3 linked regions of the Homo sapiens genome follow. The protein of the gene in region 1 interacts with the protein of each later gene in a pairwise test. Each region holds a gene or a part of one and is shown in the gene's direction. Other genes may lie near its edges.

What was found. Proteins that work in one complex are often made in the same cells at the same time.
Region 2: the proteins of PHYH (region 1) and SPMIP4 interact in binary tests that used the Homo sapiens proteins (3 or more experiments, as listed by UniProt).
Region 3: the proteins of PHYH (region 1) and OTUD7B interact in binary tests that used the Homo sapiens proteins (3 or more experiments, as listed by UniProt).

The regions. Positions count from the first base shown.
Region 1 is NC_000010.11:13,290,044-13,297,066, reverse strand, and holds part of PHYH (phytanoyl-CoA dioxygenase, peroxisomal isoform a precursor), read left to right. Parts: intron 1-1,460; coding exon 1,461-1,571; intron 1,572-2,470; coding exon 2,471-2,639; intron 2,640-5,154; coding exon 5,155-5,236; coding exon of another isoform or gene 5,237-5,242; intron 5,243-7,023. UniProt on the Homo sapiens protein: Catalyzes the 2-hydroxylation of not only racemic phytanoyl-CoA and the isomers of 3-methylhexadecanoyl-CoA, but also a variety of other mono-branched 3-methylacyl-CoA esters (with a chain length of at least seven carbon atoms) and straight-chain acyl-CoA esters (with a chain length longer than four carbon atoms).
Region 2 is NC_000007.14:25,177,334-25,184,613, reverse strand, and holds the start of SPMIP4 (sperm-associated microtubule inner protein 4), read left to right. Parts: upstream 1-4,259; 5' UTR 4,260-4,952; intron 4,953-5,281; 5' UTR 5,282-5,305; coding exon 5,306-5,439; intron 5,440-6,982; exon of another isoform or gene 6,983-7,280. UniProt on the Homo sapiens protein: Microtubule inner protein (MIP) part of the dynein-decorated doublet microtubules (DMTs) in flagellum axoneme. May serve to reinforce and thus stabilize the microtubule structure in the sperm flagella.
Region 3 is NC_000001.11:150,007,706-150,014,757, reverse strand, and holds the start of OTUD7B (OTU domain-containing protein 7B), read left to right. Parts: upstream 1-4,031; 5' UTR 4,032-4,310; exon of another isoform or gene 4,311-7,052. UniProt on the Homo sapiens protein: Negative regulator of the non-canonical NF-kappa-B pathway that acts by mediating deubiquitination of TRAF3, an inhibitor of the NF-kappa-B pathway, thereby acting as a negative regulator of B-cell responses.

The DNA.
Region 1 (7,023 bases):
TTTTTTTCATATAGTGTCTTGGTTTTACATAATTGTAATAATATTTTATTATAATAAGCATTGTCCATACTATTTTTTATTTTATTATATTTTATTATATTTTATTTTATTTTGAGACCGAGTCTGGCTCTGTCGCCCAGGCTGGAGTGCAGTGGTGCCATCTTGCTTCACTGCAAGCTCCGCCTCCCGGGTTCACGCCATTCTCCTGCCTCAGCCTCTCCAGTAGCTGGACTACAGGCGCCAGACACCATGCCGGGCTAATTTTTTGCATTTTTAGTAGAGGCGGGTTTCACCGTGTTAGCCAGGATGGTCCCGATCTGACCTCGTGATCCGCCCACCTCAGCCTCCCAAAGCTAGGATTACAGGCATGAGCCACTGTGCCCGCCATCCATACTATTATATGGCCTTAATTTTTAATGTCTGAGTCATATTCCACTGAGTGAACATAGTGTCACTAGTTAATTTTTCTTCCACTAATGCACTTTTTTTTTTTTTTTTTTTTCTGAGATGGAGCCTTGCTCTGTCACCCAGGCTGGAGTGCACTGGTGCAATCCTGGCTCACTGCAATCTCCACCCCCACAGGTTCTAGCGATTCTCCTGCCTCATCCTCTTGAGTAGCTGGGATTACAGGCACGCTAATTTTTGTATTTTTAGTAGAGATGGGGTTTCATCATGTGAGTCAGGCTGGTCTCGAACTCCCGACCTCAGGTGATCCACCTGCCTCAGCCTCCCAAAAAGCTGGGATTACAGGCATGAGCCACTGTGCCCGGCCCACTAATGCACTTGTTTTGGTGACATAAAGCGTAAGTTTTCAGATTATTTCCTTGGTCTTAGAAATGCTGAATTGAAGAGCATGAACGTTTCCTAGGTTCTTGTTTTTGTCTTTGTTTTTGTTTTTTGAGACGGAGTCTGGCTCTGTCGCCCAGGCTGGAGTGCAGTGCCATGATCAGAGCTCACTGCAACCTCCGCCTCCCAAGTTCAAGCGATTTTCCTGCCTCAACCTCCCGGGTAGCTGGGATTACAGGTGCCCACTACCATGCCTGGCTAAACTTTGTGTTTTCAGTAAACATGGGGTTTCACCATGTTGGTCAGGTTCGTCTCAGACTCCTGACCTCAGGCGATCCACCTGCCTCGGCCTCCCAAAGTGCTGGGATTATAGGCATGAGCCCCCACGCCTAGCCTCAGGTTCTTGATACATATTTTTAGGATGTAATTTAAATTTTTTTTTTTTTTTTGAGACAGGGTCTCACTCTGTCGCCCATGCTGGAGTGGAGTGGCACAACCAGTATTTTTTGTAGAGACAGGGTTTCATCATGTTGCCTGGGCTAGTCTCAAACTCCTGACCTCAAGTGATCCACTTGCCTCGGCCCGCTAAAGTGCTAGTATTAGAGGTGTGAGCCATTGTGCCTAGCCTGTAATTTAAAAATGTAACTTATTTTGGGATTCTTTTTCTCCTTTAGGTATACTCTGGATAATAACGTTCTAACCCTGGAACAGAGAAAATTTTATGAAGAAAATGGGTTTCTAGTAATCAAAAATCTTGTACCTGATGCCGATATTCAACGCTTTCGGTACAGTAACACTATTTGTTATTTTACAATAGTATGTATTGTGTGCATGTAATGAGAATACAAGGTGGATTCGCTCCTGGCTTTACAGATGTTTTTTAATGATTTGGTTTGTTGGGAAGTGTTTAGAAGCATGGGCTCTGGTGCCAGACTGGCTTTTTATTTTTTATAGAGAAAGGTTCTCACTCTGTTGTGTAGGCTGAGTGCAGTGGTGCGATCATAGCTTACTGCGGCCTCAAGTTCCTGGGCTCAAGCAATCCTCTTGCCTCAGCCTCCTGAGTAGCTGGGACCACAGTTGTGCACCACCATACCCAGCTAATTTTTTATTTCTTTGTTTTTAGAGACAGGGAGTCTCACTATGTTGCCCAGGCTGGTCTTGAACTCCTGGCCTCACCCTCCTGAGTTGCTGGGATTACAGTCGGGAGCCACCATGCCTGGGCTTCAGTCTCAGCTCCACCACTTAATATCATGTGTCCTGGGGCAATTTACTTCACATCCCATGCCTCTGTTTCCTCATCTGTAAAATGGGGATAATAATAGCACTTATGTCCTAGTGTTGTTATTAGGACTAAATACGGTGAAATATATGGAAACCACTTTGAAGAGAGCTGGGCACATGGTAAGTGTTACAGAAATGTTTGCTGTTATTATTATTACAATGTAACCAAATTATAAAAAGACTTCCCTACTGGTATGCTAAACTAGGGAATAATTTAATTCTGGGAATGGATTCTAGCCAGACAGTTTCTCCTCCCTTTCATTGGAATTATTCTACCTCAAGCTGGAGGCCAACTTAGTGCAGAGAAACCACCCCTCAAGTCTGCAACCCTTTCCACAGAGGAGGGCAGGGCAGGTGCTTGGAGCCAGCGGTAACGACATCATTTGCAAATTAAATTTTCTAGGAATGAGTTTGAAAAAATCTGCAGAAAGGAGGTGAAACCATTAGGATTAACAGTAATGAGAGATGTGACCATTTCGAAATCCGAATATGCTCCAAGTGAGAAGATGATCACGAAGGTCCAGGATTTCCAGGAAGATAAGGAGCTCTTCAGATACTGCACTCTCCCCGAGGTCAGAGACCACCCTTGCTTTGCGTCGGCTTAATTGCCAGTGTGTATGTCTGCCTGTAAAACCCGCTGATTTGGCCGGGCGCAGTGGCTCACTCCTGTAATCCGAGCACTGTGGGAGGCTGAGGCAGGTGGATCGCTTGATCCCAGGAACCACTGCTCTTAGAGCTGGATATGGAAAGGAGTTGAATTGAGTAAAATCAGTGGGTTTTATTTTGTTTTCTTTTCTGGAGACAGAGTCTCGCTCTGTTGCCCACGCTGGAGTGCAGTGGTGCGATCTCGGCTCACTGCAACCTCTTCCTCCCAGGTTCAAGTGATTATCCTGCCCCAGCCTCCCAAGTAGCTAGGTTTACAGGTGCCTGCCACCACACCTGGCTAATTTTTGTATTTTTAGTAGAGAAAGGGTTTCACCATATTGCTCAGGCTGGTCTCGAACTTCTGACCTCGTGATCCACCCACCTCGGCCTCCCAAAGTGCTGGGATTACAGGCATGAGTCACTGCGCCTGGCCAGTGTCCTACATTTCTGAAGAATGGGACCAGTATCTGGTGGTCTATGCCATGATTTTAGGAGGTATAAATTATTTTAATAGATATTTATTTTTAAATGTATTGGAAAAAAACTCAACAGTCTACCAAACTCATGATTTCAAAAATGTTGTTAATTAGGACAAGATTAAATAAAAAGGCCAGGCGAAGTGGCACTTTGGAAGGCTGAAACAGGAGAATCACTTGAGGCCAGGTGTTCAAGACCAGTCTGGCAACATAGTGAGACCATTGTCTATATTGGAAAAAAAGAAAAAAACAAAGATTGAATAAGAGAAGTGAGCTAACTGCCGGGCGCGGTGGCTCATGCCTGTAATCCCAGCACTTTGGGAGGCCGAGGTGGGCAGATCACGAGGTCAGAAGTTTGAGACCAGCCTGAGACACATGGTGAAACCCAGTCTCTACTAAAAATACAAAAATTAGCTGGGCATGGTGGCGGGCGCCTGTAATCCCAACTACTCAGTAGGCTGAGGCAGGAGAATCGCTTAAACCCGGGAGGCAGAGGTTGCAGTGAGCCGAGATCATGTCATTGCACCTAGCCTGGGCAACAGAGCGAGACTCCATCTCAAAAAAAACAAAAACAAAAACAAAAAACAAAAAACAAGTGAGCTAACTAAGGGTAGGGAAATCATTGGCTAAATAACAGTACAAGTTATGTCAGAAGTTGTGAGGATGGCTCTTGAATGGCTGGCATTTAGAAAATCCCAGCCTAGATGAATACAAAAAAATACCAGGCTTTATAAAAAGCAAGTGTGTGCCTGACTGCTAGGCTTTTAATAACCTTTCCAGGGTTTCATACTCAAATTGCCAATATTCCTTATACACAAGAGATCAAAAAGTGAGGAAGCAGTAGAAGGTGGCTTATTTTTTGGAGTCTTTTTTTTGCAGAATCAAAATTTGAATATCATGGGTTGTTTTATTTTCTTCTTCTTCTTCTTTTTTTTTTTTTTTTTTGAGACAGAGTCTCACTCTTGTTGCCCAGGCTGGACTGCAGTGGTATGATCTCAGCTCACTGCAACCTCTGCCTCCTGGGTTCAAGTGATTCTCCTGCCTCAGCTTCCCAAGTAGCTGGGATTACCGACGTGTGCCACCATGCCCGGCGAATTTTTGTATTTTTAGTAGAGATATGGTTTTGCCATGTTGGCCAAGCTGGTTTTGAACTCCTGACCTCAAGTGATCCGCCCGCCTCGGCCACCCAAAGTGCTAGGATTACAGGTGTGCGCTAACGCACCCGACCTCAGTGTTGAGCCCTTTCTGCTTTTTCCCTCTCCGTTGCTGGGTTCTGTACACAAGGTAGCGGCAGCCCAGCTCCCAGGCCCCACGACTAAACCAGCTCTCCCTGTCACGGTTCCCCATGTTAGCCTTTTCTTCATAATGCAGTGTCCCTCGGCCACTCTGACCCATGTCATTACTGGGTTAACATTTTTCATCTAACTCCTGGGACCTGCTTTGCTTGTTCACTCTTGCTTCCCCATTTCCCGTCACCTCCTGGTTCCCAGATCTCAGTAATGAGTTGTCAAGTGCCAAGCGTCCCCGATTGTCAAATGTCCTCCAAGCCACCATTCTGCTTTCTTCCGGGCTATTCATGACAGCTGTGAATTGTATGGGACTCTTCGTATGCAGAGGCTCCAATGAGGAAGAGGAAACTGCCCTCCCACTGAGCAACCTTCTGTTGCTTGGGTTGACAAGAAAGCTATATTAATATCTCATCGGAACTCCTATGTTTCTTGTAGAGAAAAAATGGTTTCATTCCCAGCTAGCTCAGAAAAAGCCCATTTCATTCCGTGTTATAGATTTAGAATGATTTCCAATGGCTGGGTTTTTCATGCTTTGTTTGCAATGTTGTGAAATACCGCTTGGTTCTTAAACTATTGCCTTCTTGGTTCTTGTGTGGATAGCTACTGTACTTTGTACCAGTTGTCAATACTTCTGATTTCCCACAAGGTTTGTTTTTGTTTTTTTTTTGCTTTCTTAGATTCTGAAATATGTGGAGTGCTTCACTGGACCTAATATTATGGCCATGCACACAATGTTGATAAACAAACCTCCAGATTCTGGTAATTGTAAGGGAGAAGAAAAAAAAATGGTTTCATTAAAATGTGTAAGGTTGGCTGGGTGCAGTAACTCATGCCTGTAATCCCAGCATTTTAGGAGACCAAGGGAGGAAGATCTCTGAGGCCAGGAGTTTGAGAGTGGCCTGGGCAACATAGTGAGGCTCTGTCTCTAAAAATAAAATTTAAAAATATCCAGGCATGGTGGTATGCACTTGTAGTCCCTGCTATTGGAAGGCTGAGGTGGGAGGATCACTTGAGCCCAGGAGTTGAAGGCTGCAGTGAACCTATAATGGCATGCTCTCCAGCCTGCGTGACACAGTGAGACCCTATCTCTACATAATAAATAAAACAAAACAAAACAAAATAATAAAATAGCTGATGTCTAACTGTAATCATGTGTACAACTGTCAAACTTTGGATAAGGAAGTCTTAAAATAACTTACACTATAACAACAGTGAAATGTGGTAATTATTTCAGATATTAACTGTAGGACTGTTGCTGAATTTTCAGATGACTGGCTCCCCAAAAATGCAGTTTAACCGACATAACTGTTCATATATCAAAGGTTCCTGCCATTCGACGTCTCTAAGCTTGATCAGCTCTTTTTAGCTGTGATAGTGTGGATTCTTGCATTCCTGATAGGAAGACATTATTATTACTAACACAATTAAAATTGTTACTATGAGTCACAAACTATAGTGGTCTTTTTTTTTTTTTTTTTTTTTTTTGAGATGGAGTTTTGCTCTTGTTGCCCAGGCTGGAGTGCGATAGCGCGATCTTGGCTCACTGCAACCCCCACCTCCCAGGTTCAAACAATTCCTGATTCTCCTGCCTCAGTCTCCCAAGTAACTGGGATTACAGGCATGTGCCACCAAGCCTGGCTAATTTTTGTACTTTTAGTAGAGACAGGGTTTCGCCATGTTGGTCAGGCTGGTCTCGAACTCCTGACTTCAGATGATCCACCTGCCTTGGCCTCCCAAAGTGCTGGGATTACAGGTGTGAGCCACCGCGCCCAGCCTATAGTTGTCTTTAAAATGTCTTGTGCTTGCTAAAATGTAGAATCTAAGACCTCATTGGCAGACAGACTGATTGAGAAATATAACCCAGGTTTCTGTATTTTAATAACCTTCCTCAAGCTGGGCGTGGATGTGCACCTGTGGTCCCAACTACTCAGGAGGCTGCGGGGGGAGGATCGCTGGAGCCCAGGAGTTCAAGTCCAGAGATTGTAGTGCAGATCACTTGGACTACACTGGGAAATTCCTCTGTGCCTGCAGTAAAAATCAGCCATGAGAGAGTCCCCCTATCCTTTCTGCCTTTTCTTCCTTCTGATCTGCAGGAGGGGTTTATGTGATAGAAGGCAGCTTAGCATTACCAGGTCTCTCCCTCCTTGAGGAGAGCAGGTGTTCGGGAGCCACACTCAGGGAGCAAACCAGGGGAAAATGTCAGTGTGGTCATGGGCACTCCGACTGGACATGGAATGACTATAGTTGTGGGGGGTGAGGACCTCTTAGATAACTTTTTTTATTTTTATTTTTTTTGAAATGGAGTCTTGCTCTGTTGCCCAGGCTGGAGTGCAGTGGCTCAATCTCGGCTTACTGCAACCTCTGCCTCTGGGGTTTGAGTGATTCTCCTGCCTCATCCTCCTGAATAGCTGGGATTACAGGTGCCCACCACCACACCCAGCTAATTTTTTTTTTTTTTTTTTTTTTTTTTTTTTGGTATTTTTAGTAGAGACAGGGTTTCACCATGTTGGTCAGGCTGGTCTCGAACTCCTGACCTCAGGCAATCT
Region 2 (7,280 bases), on another chromosome or scaffold:
ACCACTGAGTCTTCTGAGCAGAGGTTTAAGATTAGAGAGAAAAAGGCTACCCAGAAGGAACTCAAATTCATGGGACAAAATGTTAGAATATCCATGTAGGAAGATGCAAAGAAAGATAAAAGGAAAGATGCCAGGGAGGCCACAAGGACAAACAACTGCATGTAACCAAGGGCACATGGCCGGGTCACCTCGCTAAAGGGTCCTGATGATCATGTTTCTAAATAGAAGAACCTTACATTGCTTTTCAGACATTTCCAAGGGAATGATATCAGAAGCACAAGAGTCTTGGTTAGGTGACCATGGACCCCTACAGCAAGAGTGCTGGCCCCAGTCGAGCACTTACCTCACTGATTATGACTCTCCATGGCTCCATGTCCCCATAGATTGTAGGTGCTAGGACAACCCCTGATGCATTCTAGGTAACTGTTTACTAAATAGCACATTTTATAAATGTGTGCATCAACGTCACTTCAGTGTTCACTACTAAATGACCACCTAGTTCCTTAGCTACTCAAGGCAAAAAAAAAATTATTATTGTTTTTCACACAGTAAATTTTTTATTGGAGGAGGAGAACATCTAAAATCTACATTCTTAGAAAAATTTTAGTATGCAATACAATATTATGAATATTATAATCCTTGTGCTGCACATTACATTTCTAGGCTTATTCAATTGATCATAGTTGACATGACTACAACCATAAAGACTGTTGAGATTACAATGCTCTTTAAAAATAACCCTCTTCAAGAAAAAAATTGAAATGACACCCACAAAAAAGCTGATTGCGTTTTTATAATAAACAACTATGAAAGAAAGAAAATATGTTTTGAGAAGAATTTAAAGTACTGAACTTAGGTTAAATTATTTAGTACCAAAAAAGTATTAAAGTGTAATTTAACTCATTTGTAGTTTAAAGTCAGCAGAATATACATACTTTTAATTGTCATCCTACTAAGAAGATACATATACTGAAATCAACAAGGCTTTAAGTTTTTCAATTTTTAAAGATGCATATTTTAACGTTACTGAGACACTTTCCAACACATCTTCTAAGCAAGGCACCAGACTCCAAATTGTTTTTTCATGTAAAAAATATTCACTGGGCCGGGTGCATGACTCACGCCTGTAATCCCAGCACTTTGGGAGGCCAAAGCAGACGGATCACCTAAGGTCAGGAGTCTGAGACCAGCCTAGCCAATATGGCAAAACCCCGTCTCTACTAAAAATACAAAAAATTAGCCAGGCGTGGTGGCGAGCACTCGTAATCCCAACTACTTGGGAGGCTGAGGCAGGAGAATTGTTTGAACCGGGGAGGCGGAGGTTGCAGTGAGCCAAAATCACACCATTGTACTCCAGCCTGGGCAACAGAGACTCTGTTTCAAAAAGAAAAAAAAAATCATGTTCCTGGTCTCTTCATTCATTTTACTGGTCTCTATAACAGACTTAAAAGAAAGGTTATAGACTGTAATTCATGCTTTATGTTATTATCTACCTCCTACTTATTCTTTACCTGAAGGTGAAAGGTCTAACTGTGATTTGGAATTGTCATCAACCCACAGTATTCTAAGCATATATTATTTTCATTGCCAAATTTCATCTTCCCTGCTTGAAGGATTACTAGCAAAATGAGGTGGTGACAAGATCAACATGTGAGAAGTCAAAAGAAGGCAATCTGAGGCTACTGGCCCCCTGGCCATGTTATACCTAAGAAATTCGTCACTTGAGCATCCCTGGGTAGGAGGCTACTTTGTGTTGTTGAGATCACATCCTGGCTGAGATGGAGTGAGTTAAATCACAAAAGCTAAGAGTAACGAGTGTTGGTCAAACAAATAGACCCAATCCTGATATCCCTGAAAATTTCAGATGGAGAAGCATTTTCAAAGAAAACAATTGTTTTACAACGATCTGACAATGAATTTTTCTTGCCGGTACATTTTATTTGAAAAACGATAAAGATAAAAATAATTACATTTATCTGCCTTTTACACTCATCTGACCTAAAATAAAATTTCAAATCCCCTAGAACCTGGAGGCTATCACATGGCATATCCTGATCATTCAACCTGGAGTTGACACACTTTCTCCGGTGTCACTACCATCCATGTACATACATGGCTAGTGATGCATCTTCATCAGATGCCTCTGATTAAATCTATCATGCTCAGTTATTCCTCCCAGGAAGAATCAAGCCATGGGAAAATAGGACTAAGGTTGAGGATGAGAAAAAGGTGAAGTATAGAAAGTACTGGAAGACTGGGGACATGAAATGGGCTGGGGAGACAAGGAATTTAATGGGAGATCCTGAACACAGAGGAGCAGAAAAGGGGCAAAAGCTTACAATGAACTACCAGAAATTGGAGGGGAAATAAAGATGTCAAAGATAAAAGCCAGTTTCACCTAATACACAACTCTGTCTCCAGCAGGATCTATTCCTCTAGGCTTAGTGGGTGGTAACTACTGGAAGGTCGGCAGAGGTGCAGGAACTAAGAAATAAACCAAGACTACAAAATTACCACTGTGCCTACTTCAATACACCTTTCTTCCCCCACTCCAGGTAACACTCACATAGAAGGCACAGCACAAAATGAATGCCCACTGGTTGGTTAGTAGAAAGTTGTAAAGTAGGCAGAGAATAGCAAAGGCACCATCATACTGTTACCAAGCAAAGGAGGCTCGCTGCCCGAGGCACTAGAAGTCAATACTATAACACTGGGTTTTTGATAAAATAAAAACTTTTATTGCATGTCAACCAACAAAGAAATAGGAAGTCCAGCTCAAATCTGTCTCCCTGTGCTGGCTTTAGGACAATTATTTTATTAGAAATGGTTTTGAGTGTGGATTCTGGGATTAGCAGGTGCTTGGTGGAAGGAAAGAGGAAGTCTGGAAAGTCCTTGCGCATGTGCTCTTATTTCTTCATGCTACCTAAGGGTTCCACGTGCAAATTCAGTGAGGAGTTAGTATGAAACATGGCAGTAGAAATTCAGCTGTAAGGTCAGCAAGCTGGATCTGTGCAGACTCTAGTTGGCCTTATATGTTCCAGTGGATTTCAGCCAGTTTTATTAACCTACAAGCCCAGGCATTTCAGCATTTCAGCAATTTGTTTCTTTTATCTGCCATCCTGTAAACTCAAGAATTTCTATGACTGTTTTCTTTAACTCTTTGGCACACAGTTTCAACGCCCTTCTTCTCAGAGGTGGTCATTCTCACCCTCACCTTCTGGTTCCTGCAGGCTCATTTCTAGCCTCCCACACTGTATTAGTCTTTTCTCACAATGCTGTAAAGAACTGCCCAAGACTGGGTAATTTATAAACGAAGGAGGTTTAGTTGACTCACAATCTCACATGGCTGCGGAGGCCTCAGGAAACTTACAATCATGGCAGAAGGCCACGGAGAAGCAGTTACCTTCTCCACAAGGGGGCAGGAAGGAAAAGTGCTGGGAGAAGGGAGAAGAGCCTCTTATAAAACCATCAGATCTCGTGAGAATTCACTCGCTATTACGAGAACAGCATGGGGGAAACTGCCCCCATGATCCAATTACTTCCACCTGGTCTCTCCTTTGACAAGCGGGGATTATGGGTATTACAATTCAAGATGAGATTTGAGTGGGGACACAAAGCCTAACCATATCACACATATACACACAACCTAACCTCCTCACATCCCATTCCTTGATGGGGTGGCAGGTGGCGAGGGGGGGGTGACATCCCTTATTGTCAGCCATCACAGGAACTCATGACCCTGTAGGTGCAGATTCATGGCTCACATTTGTATCTTTTGGGGAAAACTGAGGTAATCAAGGTGGGGCTAGGCCCTGGGGACGAGGCAAGTAAAGGACTTTGCCATGTCCGCACCCACCAGGGAAGGAGCAGAGACTCTGTTAGGGCGCCATGCCAGGGGCTGCAGTTTCAGAATCCTGCAGACTCCACCCTCTATCTGGCCACACTGTCCCCAATTTTTGCGAGGTGACCTGGGGAGGGAGGACAGGTCGGATGCTCCGACCTCACCAGGGACTCCACTGGACCGGAGCTCTTCCTCCTCCGCCCAGTCCACATGAGAGAGCTCCCTGGCCGGCCCTGAGACAGCTCCAGACCTGGTAGCCCTGGAAAAAGAAACTGGTATCGCCATCGCCGCCGCCGCTAGAGGGCGCCTGGGGGCGGGGCGCGGGTGGGGCAAGGCGGGGTCCGACTGGAGGCAGGGCGGTGAGCCGAGAGGGGCGGGGCAAGGGACCGGGAGGCGGGGCCAGGGGTCGCAAGGCGGAAGAGCCCCTCTCGCCTCCGACCCGGCGCCTCGCACTCCGTTCACTCTCGGTTCCTCTTCGCATTCTTGCCAGTCCCGTAGCGCTGGGCTGGTTTCCTCCGAGGTCTCTAAGAGCCTCCTACTGCGCCCCGCTCGCCGCCCGGAAGCCCCCAGCCCCTCAAGGACGCATCACCTAATGCCGCGGTCACGGCCACCGTCACAAGCGCCCCCAGCCCCACCCCACCCCGGCCTGCCCGCCGTCCTTCTCCCGCCCCCGCCCCTGCCTGCCAGCTCCACCGGGCCGTAGGTGCGGACGACCTCAAAATTCCTCGGCCCGCGAAGGCCGCCAGCTGCGGGGAGGGGAGGGGAGGCGCGGTCCCGCAGCGCCCCCAGGCTCATGTCCCAGGTATGTCCAGACCCCCGAGGCACCGCTTGCAGGGCAGTGACAGCCCGTGAGGCTCGGCCTCGACCCCTGGCACCCTTGGTCCCAGCTACGCCGGCTCCTGGCCTTCCCCCAAGTCCGAGAGAGAGGTGGGATTCTCCCCGACGCAGTTGGAAACCGGGAATCCCCTTTAGGGTCCCGTTCGTGCTGCACTACTGACTCCACCATCTGCAAAGGGATTCTTGTCCAGAATCCCCGAAGGCTTTAGGACAGCGCTTATTTTGTTGAATGAAGAGTCTCTAATTTTCGGAAAGACCACAGGCTAAAAGTCAAGTGAGTTTTCTTGAATAGTTATAGTTAAATTTAAGGCAGGAATTGAATGTCAGTTGATGGCCACAAAGTAGCGGACTGGTACGAACCTACTGGATGATCATTCTGGTGACTACTTGGAGGCACCGTCCACTTTGTGGATTTGTTTCAGTTGAAATTTATTTCCATAGAACTTATTTAGGTCTCTATTTATTACTGATTTGACGGCTTTCAGTGCAGAGGGAAGCCTGTGACGTCTGTGCAGCGTCAGGTTGAACAATTTAGCAGTGTAAAATGTGTTTTCTGCCTGCCTTGACTCGACAAGCCAAATGTGCCCTCCTTTTCTTTTCCAGGTTGTGCCTTTTTAGCCAAGAAGCATGGAAGTCATTCACGGCAGGCCCTACTGTTGCAGGGAGCTTGAAGGAGCTGACATACTGTCCAACACCTTTTACTCTAATGAATTGCACAACCCCCTCCAGACGGTTACTCGCCCAACTGCCTCAGAGGACAGGTAAAACAAAAACTAGAAAAAGCAAACAAGAAAAAGCAGTTTTAATGTATTCGTGTATTTTATTATGTGAGGAAAAACATTTATTGTTCTGGGGCTCTTCTGTTTCTTGTTTGTTTGTTTGTTTGTTTGTTTTTGAGACGGTGTCTCGCTCTGTCGCCCAGGCTGGAGTGTAGTGGTGCGATCTCGGCTCACTGGGACCTCTGCCTCCCAGGTTCAGGTGATTCTCCTGCCTCACCCTCCAGAGTAGCTGGGATTACAGGCATGCACCACCATGCCCAGCTAATATTTTTGCATTTTTAGTAGAGACAGGGTTTCACTATGTTGGCCAGGCTGTTCTCAAACTCCTGACCTCAAATGATCCACCCACCTCGGCCTCCCAAAGTGCTGGGATTACAGGCGTGACCACTGCGCCGGGCCGGGGCTCTTCTGCTTATCATATAATAGGGAAGGCAAAACGTGGCAATTATCTGAACCTTCAAGTGTCTGTAAGGAACTCGAGAAGTAAGTGGCTGTCTACTATAAAAGCCACACATCAAATTCATCCACTACATTCTAAAATCTTAGAATGGTCCGTTCCTTCATTGGGAAATTAATATGTTGTAAGCAAAGACTTTTATAAATAGTACTGTATTGGTTCCCTAACATGCCCTTCTACCATCTGCCCAAAAATACTCCCAGAATTTGCTGCTTATACTTGTGTAAATTTTTGCTTCACCAAATTCCCTGTAACACATTAATTATACATTATGATTTAATTTATGAAAAGCAGTTTGGTGATTTCTCAAAGAACTCAAAACAGAATTACCATTTGACCCAGCAATCCCATTATTGGATTCTAAGTTGTTCTTATAAGTTGTTCTATCAAAGGAATATAAGTTGTTCTACCATAAAGACACATGCACAAGTATGTTCATCACAGCACTATTCACAATAGCAAAGACATGGAATCAGCATAAATGACCATCAGTGGTTGACTGGATAAAGAAAACATGGTACATATACACCATGGAATACTATGCAGCCATAAAAAAACGAGATCATGTCCTTTGCAGCAACGTGGATGGAGCTGGAGGCCATTATTCTAAAGCAAACTAACACGGGAACAGAAAACCAAATATCACCTATTCTGACTTATAAGTGGGAGCTAAACATTGAGTACACATGGAGACAAAGAAGGGAACCACAGACACCAAGGCCTACTTGAGGGTGGAGAGAGGGAGGAAGGTGAGGATCAGAAAACTACCTCTTGGGTACTATGCTTATCACCTGGGTGACAAAATAATTTGTACACTGAACCACTGCAACATGCAATTTACCTGTATAATGAACCTGCATATGTCCCCCTGAACCTAGAAAAAAAGTTTAAAAAAAAAAATTACAATGAAAATAATTGCACCTATCTAGTGATTACTGTGTGTCAGCACTCTACCAAATGCTTTGTATGTAGTAATTCTTTTAATCCTCATGACAACCCTATAAGTACTACTGTTATCTGCATTTTACATATGAAATAACAGATACACACAAGTAATTTGCCAAGATCTTAGTGTCAGCATTTCCTGTATTGTATTTACTTGAATCATTTTGAGAAAAGGAAAAGGAAAAAACACCTCAAAACACCTGGACAGTGAAAAAATAGCCTGAGTGGTTGTCTACTTGTTTTGTGTTTTTTGTTTTTTTGTTTTTTTTTTATTAGACGGAGTCTCACTCTGTTGCCAGGCTGGAGTGCAGTGGCACAATCTCGGCTTACTGCAACCTCCGCCTCCTGGGTTCAAGCAATTCTCCTGCCTCAGCCTCCTGAGTAGCTGGGACTACAGGCACACACCACCTCGCCCAGCTAA
Region 3 (7,052 bases), on another chromosome or scaffold:
GATTTTTATCTTCAAGATTACGTTCGCCTGTTCCTGAATTTCACATAAATGGCTTTTTTTGCACCACAAATGAGTCCAAGATTCATTCATATTGTTGTGTTTAATGATCATTTGTTTTTTAAATTTGTACTCCATTGTAAGAACAATATAAGTAATTTTCTGTTGGTGAACATTTAAAATGTTCTAGTTTGGAGCTATTATGAATAAAGCTATAGTGAACATTCACGTATAAGTTTTTTGTGTACACATATATTTCATTTCTATTGGGTAAATTCCTAGGGAGTGGAATTACTAGGTTTTAGGGTAGGAATGTGTTTAACATTATGAAACTTCCCCTCATACAGCTTTTTTTTTTTTTTTTGAGACACTTTCTCTCTGTCACCCAGGCTGGAGTGCAGTGGTGCAATCATGGTTCCCTGAGCCTCGATCTCCCAGACTCAAGTGATCCTCCCACCTTAGCCTCCCTAGTAGCTGGGACCACAGGCATGCACCACCATGCCTGACTAATTTTTTTTTATTTTTGTAGAAATGGGATCTCCTTATATTGCCCAGGCTGGTCTCAAACTCCTGTGCTCAAGCCATTCTCCTGCCTTGGCCTCCCAAAGTGCTGGGATTTCAGGCAGGATCCACCATGCCTGGCTGAGCCCCTACTATATATATATATATATATATACACACACACACACACACACACACACATATATATACACACACATATATACGTATATATACGTATATATGTGTGTGTATATATATGTGTGTATATATGTGTGTGTATATATATGTGTGTGTGTGTGTGTGTGTGTGTGTATATATATATTATTTTTTTTTTTTTTTGAGACAGAGTCTCACTCTGTTGCCCGGCTGGAGTGCAGTGGCGCGATCTCGTCTCACTGCAAGCTCCGCCTCCCGAGTTCACGTCATTCTCCTGCTTCAGCCTCCCAAGTAGCTGGGACTACAGGCGCCCGCCACCTCGCCTGGCTAATTTTTTGTAGTTTTAGTAGAGACAGGGTTTCACCGGGTTAGCCAGGATGGTCTCAATCTCCTGACCTCATGATCCGCCTGCCTCAGCCTCCCAAAGTGCTGGTATTACAAGCGTGAGCCACTGCTCCCAGCCGAGCCCTAGATATTTTTTTAAAAAATATGGATTCATGGTCTTCAGTTCCAAGAAAGAATTCTGCGTCAGTCTGAGGTTCCTAGGCATGTATAATATGTAGTTTTTAAAAACTCCCCAGAACCAATGGTCTAAATTATATTGGTGGCGGTGGAAAGGAAGTTATTTTGGTTTGGTTTTCTTTTCCACCACAAAAGCATATAAATGTAAATAGTTTTTTTCCCTGCCTAGCTACAACCTTTCTCTGAACATTTTCCCCAACTCTAGCCATTAGCCCCAGTATTGAAATAGTCTCTCTTTTTAGTTTCTCTGGTGAAATGCAAAGCTCTGGTTTTTCTGCTCTTGCTTAAAGTGATGTAAAAGCTCAGGGAGCTCCTTGAAGCAGCCCTTAGAATTGCTAAGACGAGTAAACAAAAACAGATCTCTAGGGTGGAAAAGAACTTTGGACAGAATAGCAGTTGAGGGTGTGTGGCCCTGTGTACACCGGTAGGATTTTGTCTGGTGCTTTTACCTTTTTTCCCTTACTATTCTACCTAGCAGCAAGAAATAGTCAACTGTGTTCTGGCTGCTGCCAATGTCTACATTAAACAGCTGCCTCTGAGCATCCAACCTAGTGCCAGCCTAAATGGCTGCATATCACTAGAGAAGAAGCCTCTAGTTTCTACGCAGAGAAACTGAGACACAGGAATGGGAAGGGAGTCACTTAATGGATTAGGGACTGGTTGAGCTGGGACCAGAACCCAGGTGGCCTGGCTCCCAGCCCAGCTGACCACACTGCTACCCACACAGCCTGGGCTGACCAAAGACAAGCAGCCCATTGAGCAACTGCACAAACAACAATGAATGATGGATGGTCAGAGCAAGAAATAGGCACAAAGCAACTGTGACCCCATCACTTCCTGGCCCCTAAATTTCCAGGCAAGCCTATAAAGTGTGGTCACTTAAATGACTTTGACCAGCAACTTGGCCCAGCTTTCAAATCTGGAGACCTTCTATGGTCACTGCCAAAAGAAAAAGTCTTATATTGAGGGTAGAGTGCCTTTGAGCTCCACGCCTGGTTCTATTAAGTCTGTGGCAGTGGCGTTAAGATTAGAAAGACATATTTATATGGGTATAACCTGGTTCTGGACAGCTGTGGTGAAACAAGGCAACTTTCAGATTTTGAGGCTCCTCTTCTACAGATCTGTGCTCCCATCTCAGATTTAACTAGCAAAGGGTAGGTGTGGTCAGTGATTGTTGTCACAATCATTCCAGAATGTTTGTGTAGAGTTACTAGAATTTCAGTCTTTTCATTCTAAAGTATTTTCATCCCTCTCACCTTTCTAGAACGACACCCTTTTCAGCTCCTTTCCAACGGCTGTAGCCAACTGATTCTACCCCAGAGTCCCAAGCGTCCACCCCCGTACCCTTCCAGTTCAGTTCAGTTAGAGTTCAGTTAGAGTCAATTTAGGTGACCAAATCTCATCCTGCTCTCCTCCTTAAATTTACCACTAAACGGTAGCTAAAATTTGTGGTCCCTTATACGCTTGAAGCCCACGCCAAATGACTTTACTTGTCAACCTCTATTGTATGTCTTGGATATGCCCCCATGCAAGGCACTCTGACTTGTTTGGCCTTAGCATGTGTGGACAGCCTTGGGCCCAGCCCTAAATTTTCGATTGTAAACCCAGGTGTATCCCTAAGAGATATAGCTGTCTAGGAAGTTTCCCTGTTTCAGGTGTCAGTTTCCTATTCTGAGCTAGACAATTCTAAAATGCCTATGCCCCACGCCTCCCCTTTAGAAACTGAGGAAGAAGTGAGGGGAAAGAAAAGTTGACTAGAGTATTTGTTTTTACATAGGCATAATGGGCACAATTAGGCAATACATTATTTTGAATATGCAGACCAGGTGCTATAATGTTAGGAATCTGAATTAAAATTTCAAATGTCTTTTGTTAGAGTATAGCCGGGGTTGGCATCGTTTTGTGTTTGTCATAAAGAGGTATTTACTAAATGGCCTTTCTTTCTTGAAACAGTCCACACAGGCCTAATACTTATTCATTCATTCAACAAATATGGAAGGTCTACTATGTGACAAGGATGGCTTATTATGTTCTCATAGCCATAGCTCATTGTCACTCAGGTAGGACACATACAAGTTCTGCTACATATAATATAGTTTTATGTATTTTACTAAATTGTAAAACCTTTGATGTCTGGGATTATGTCTTGTTAATTTTTGTATCCCCCTGTATCACTGAGAGCAGTGATACACATCACAGGGATACAATACATATTTGAATTATGCCATAATGTTTTAAAAGACATAACAAACGCACTAGAAGACATAACAAACGCACTATGTAAGTTTTTTTTACTGTTAGCAGTCTAAAGCAGATGTATCAACAGGGTATCACTGTTATGCAAGTAAATAAATATTAAGTGTTTACAGAGAAGGATATGTTCACTTCAAGAGTGAAGGAACAAGAGAAATATATAATTGGGTGGAGACTGGTGTGGAAGAAGCTAATCTTCCTCCGGTCACTCCAGAATGATTGTGTAGAGTTACTAGAATGTCAGTCTTTTCATTCTGAAGTATTTTCATCTCTCTCACCTTTCTACAACTACTCCACCCCTTTCAGCTCCTTCCCAACGGCTGTAGCCAACTGATTCTACCCCAGAGTCCTAAGAGTCCACCCTGTACTCCTCCAACTCCTGTTCAAGAATGCTCCAGACCAGGAGCTTTAGGGACTCGGGTCGGGAAAACACGGGGTCACGCGCGGGGCAAGCGCCAAACTGGCCGCAGCCTGGGGAGCGGCGCTAAAGGCGGGGCTGCGACGGGGCGGAGCGGGAGGAGGCCCGGGGGCGGCCTGGGTGTCACCACCAACCCGCTCCGGCCGGAAACTGGCGCCTGTTTCCGGCCGGACAGCAGAAAGCCACCGATCCTGAACCAGCCGCCGGAGCCGGAGTGGCGACCGGGTGCGGAGTGGGCAAAAAGCCACTGGGGGAGGCCAGTCCCGATCAGTCCTTTCTGGCTCCAGCTCCAGATCCCGTGCGGAGCAACAGCTGCGGTCGCAGTCTCCACCACCGCCTCCACCTCCATCGCCGTCGGGGGAGGGGCCGGCCGGACCCCGGGGTCACTGCCGAGGAATGAAGAGAGGCGGCCGGGCCCCGCGCTCCGCCCCGGCCTAGGGCCTTGCCCCGGGAGCCCGCGAGGGTAACGGAGCCCCCCGTCCTGACACCGTCCCCCGTCTGCTCCCGCCCCTCCCGGCTTCTCAGACTCGCAAACTCTGCTCCTCAGATCGCCACTGTCCCCTTTCTCCTTTCTGAATCTGTTTCACCCGAAGCCATCTCCCCTCGGCACTCCTTTCTCGCCCTGACTGCTCCTTGCTTCGTCCCGATCTTTCCTCCTCCCTTTCACCTGCGTCCTGCGTTCCTACCCCGCGCTCTCCAGCTCCCGGCCTCCCTTCCTGAGCTGTGCTGGCCAGTTTGGACGGTCCCCCCTTGTCAGCTAGACTTTCGGGAGGGATGGTGGAGTTTTAAGGTGATTAAGATGCAGTGTATTATCCCCACAGTAGGATAAAGTTCATTTAAAATCTCAATATAATACTAAAATGAAAAGCAAATAAGCTTATTCTTCCTATTGATAGCCAAACTAAGGTGCATACAGTAATGGAGGAAAGGCGAGAAAAAGGTGTGTGTGTGTGTTTGTGTGTGTGTGTGAGAGAGGGAGAGAGACGGAGGTTGACGGATTCTAGGGCAGTCTTAAGAACTTTAGAAAAAAGAAAAGTTGCCATGAGCCGATGGAAACTTTAGAAGCTGATGATGAGTAAGCCGGGGGCTGCGTGATCTCACTCTTCTCATAATTACTAGGTTAACGGTGTGGCTCCGGTCGGGATGGAATGGGATTTGTTTACTGGGCCGGCGTATTTTTAGCTTGTCGGCTCACAAGGACCAGCGCTCAGAGTCTCTTTCTCCCCGCTCGTGGTAGTCTTTCTTGTCTAACCTAGGTGGCTTCTCTGGGCACAATAAAGATGTAAAAATTTGAAATTAGAAACTGACTGGTGGAATTTTATGGAAGAAGTTCCCCACAAACTTTTCAGGCAGCTTTTCACGAATGCAAAGCCTAGAATTAGCAGGACGTTGACTTTTATTTTCCTTATCTTTTTATACGTACTACGTAACGCTTTGCTTAGAAATTCACATGCTGCTAATTTTTCAGTCTTTGGCCTCTAGTACTGTATATTTAGGAGATTTTTGAGGAGGCTGGATCCCTTTGTCTTTCAGAATCTATTTCAAAGGTGGAAAAGGACAGAGTAGAGAAAGAGGTGGCGGTAAGACTGGCTCCAAAGAGTTGCTAACCCCTAAATATTTAAAAAAGTTTCTATGCTATGTAACTTCTGAAAACATGTAGAAAATTTTCTTCCTACTAAATGAGATTGCATTCCTGATGGGGAGAAGACTTCAGGGACGGAAGCTGGGTGGCTAGGGAGAATCAGAGGTAGTTAAATATTTGCTGTGTATAACTTACAAATACATTATGCGCAAACAATGAAGAATTAATTATACGCTTTGTCTTCATTGTTTTTCAAGTAGTTCTTTTAACGTTCAGTAACCAACCTGCTGTGCTAGTCTATTGATATTTTGAAGGCTGAACAAAACTGTAAAATAAATGAACTTGATGTTGCTCCTCTGCAGGCTGAATACCCCCGACCGTTCTAATTTCCACTATTGACCCAGCTTGCCTCAGAGCACCTCCCTGACAAAGTGGCCAGTTACTATGTACTTAGAGATTGCAAATCAATGCAAATATTAGCTCATACTAGGAATAATTAAGAAGGTAAATATGCTGAAAACATATATTCCAAAACCAAAATAGATTTTTTCGATTTTACCCTCATTTTTGATTATCACCACCTTTCTGCCAATAATTATCCGTTAACATGAATAATTTAGAATTGAACAGATATCTGCTTTGGACATTACACTTTCAAGATAGAAGGAAAGATGGAAGGAAGATAGTGCCAAACTAATTTTTTATTGTCATTGCCTTATTTGACTTATTCCTTGCTTTTAATACTGAAGACTCCCTCGGAAAAAAATGTAAAACTTTGCCAAAGCAAGAGCTGGCTATCTACTGACTTGTATAAGGCCCGGTGACTGGTAATGAATGCTAATCATTAGGTGGCCTTTAGTGGCCTTATGTTGCCAACAACTTGGAAAATTTCCCAAAGCTTTATTTGTTTAATCTTTCTTTTGAGACCCCTATTTAAAAAACGACTTAATTTGGAGACGAAAATCTAATTTTTAAAAACCACATACACCTTTCCCAGAATCTGTTGATGATCAATAATTGTTTTGATCTGTGTGAGTTGATTGGTGCCAATATTAGTGATGATATCTGGGTAAATTCTATTTATATCTGCATCTAGCAACTCCCTAAGTTGAACTGCATACTTTATTCCAGGGCATGGGGATCAAAGGGGTTGAAGAAGCCTAGGAATGAGTGGAGAGCTGCCTGGTAGTCCACCACTATTCCTAGTTCTCAGGAGGCTTTATTTGCAATTTTGAGATTCAATGTATGTAACCAAAATAAGTATTCTGATTGTTATGAGGGCACTAAGTGCCACTTGTCAAAGTTTTGGAGCTCCTGAGTATCTTAAGCATGCTAAAAGACACTGGCCATTATAGTGTGGGTGTATGTGTGTATGAGTAGCACTCTCCTTACCCTAAACACTCATCCCACCAAAGGGAAAATCCTTAAACAGCGCTTTGAAATGTGACCTCAGCAGTATCTTTCCTATGGGAACTTAGGAGCTGTGGAATAGCAGACTGTGGAATCTTTTTTGTAGCCTCTGATAAATTCAGGTAATTAAAAATTTGTGTAACTGGAAGATAGATACAGGGCAGTTTTTCTCATGAATGCCTGAATTCAGTTGACTTTTTAATATAATAGAAG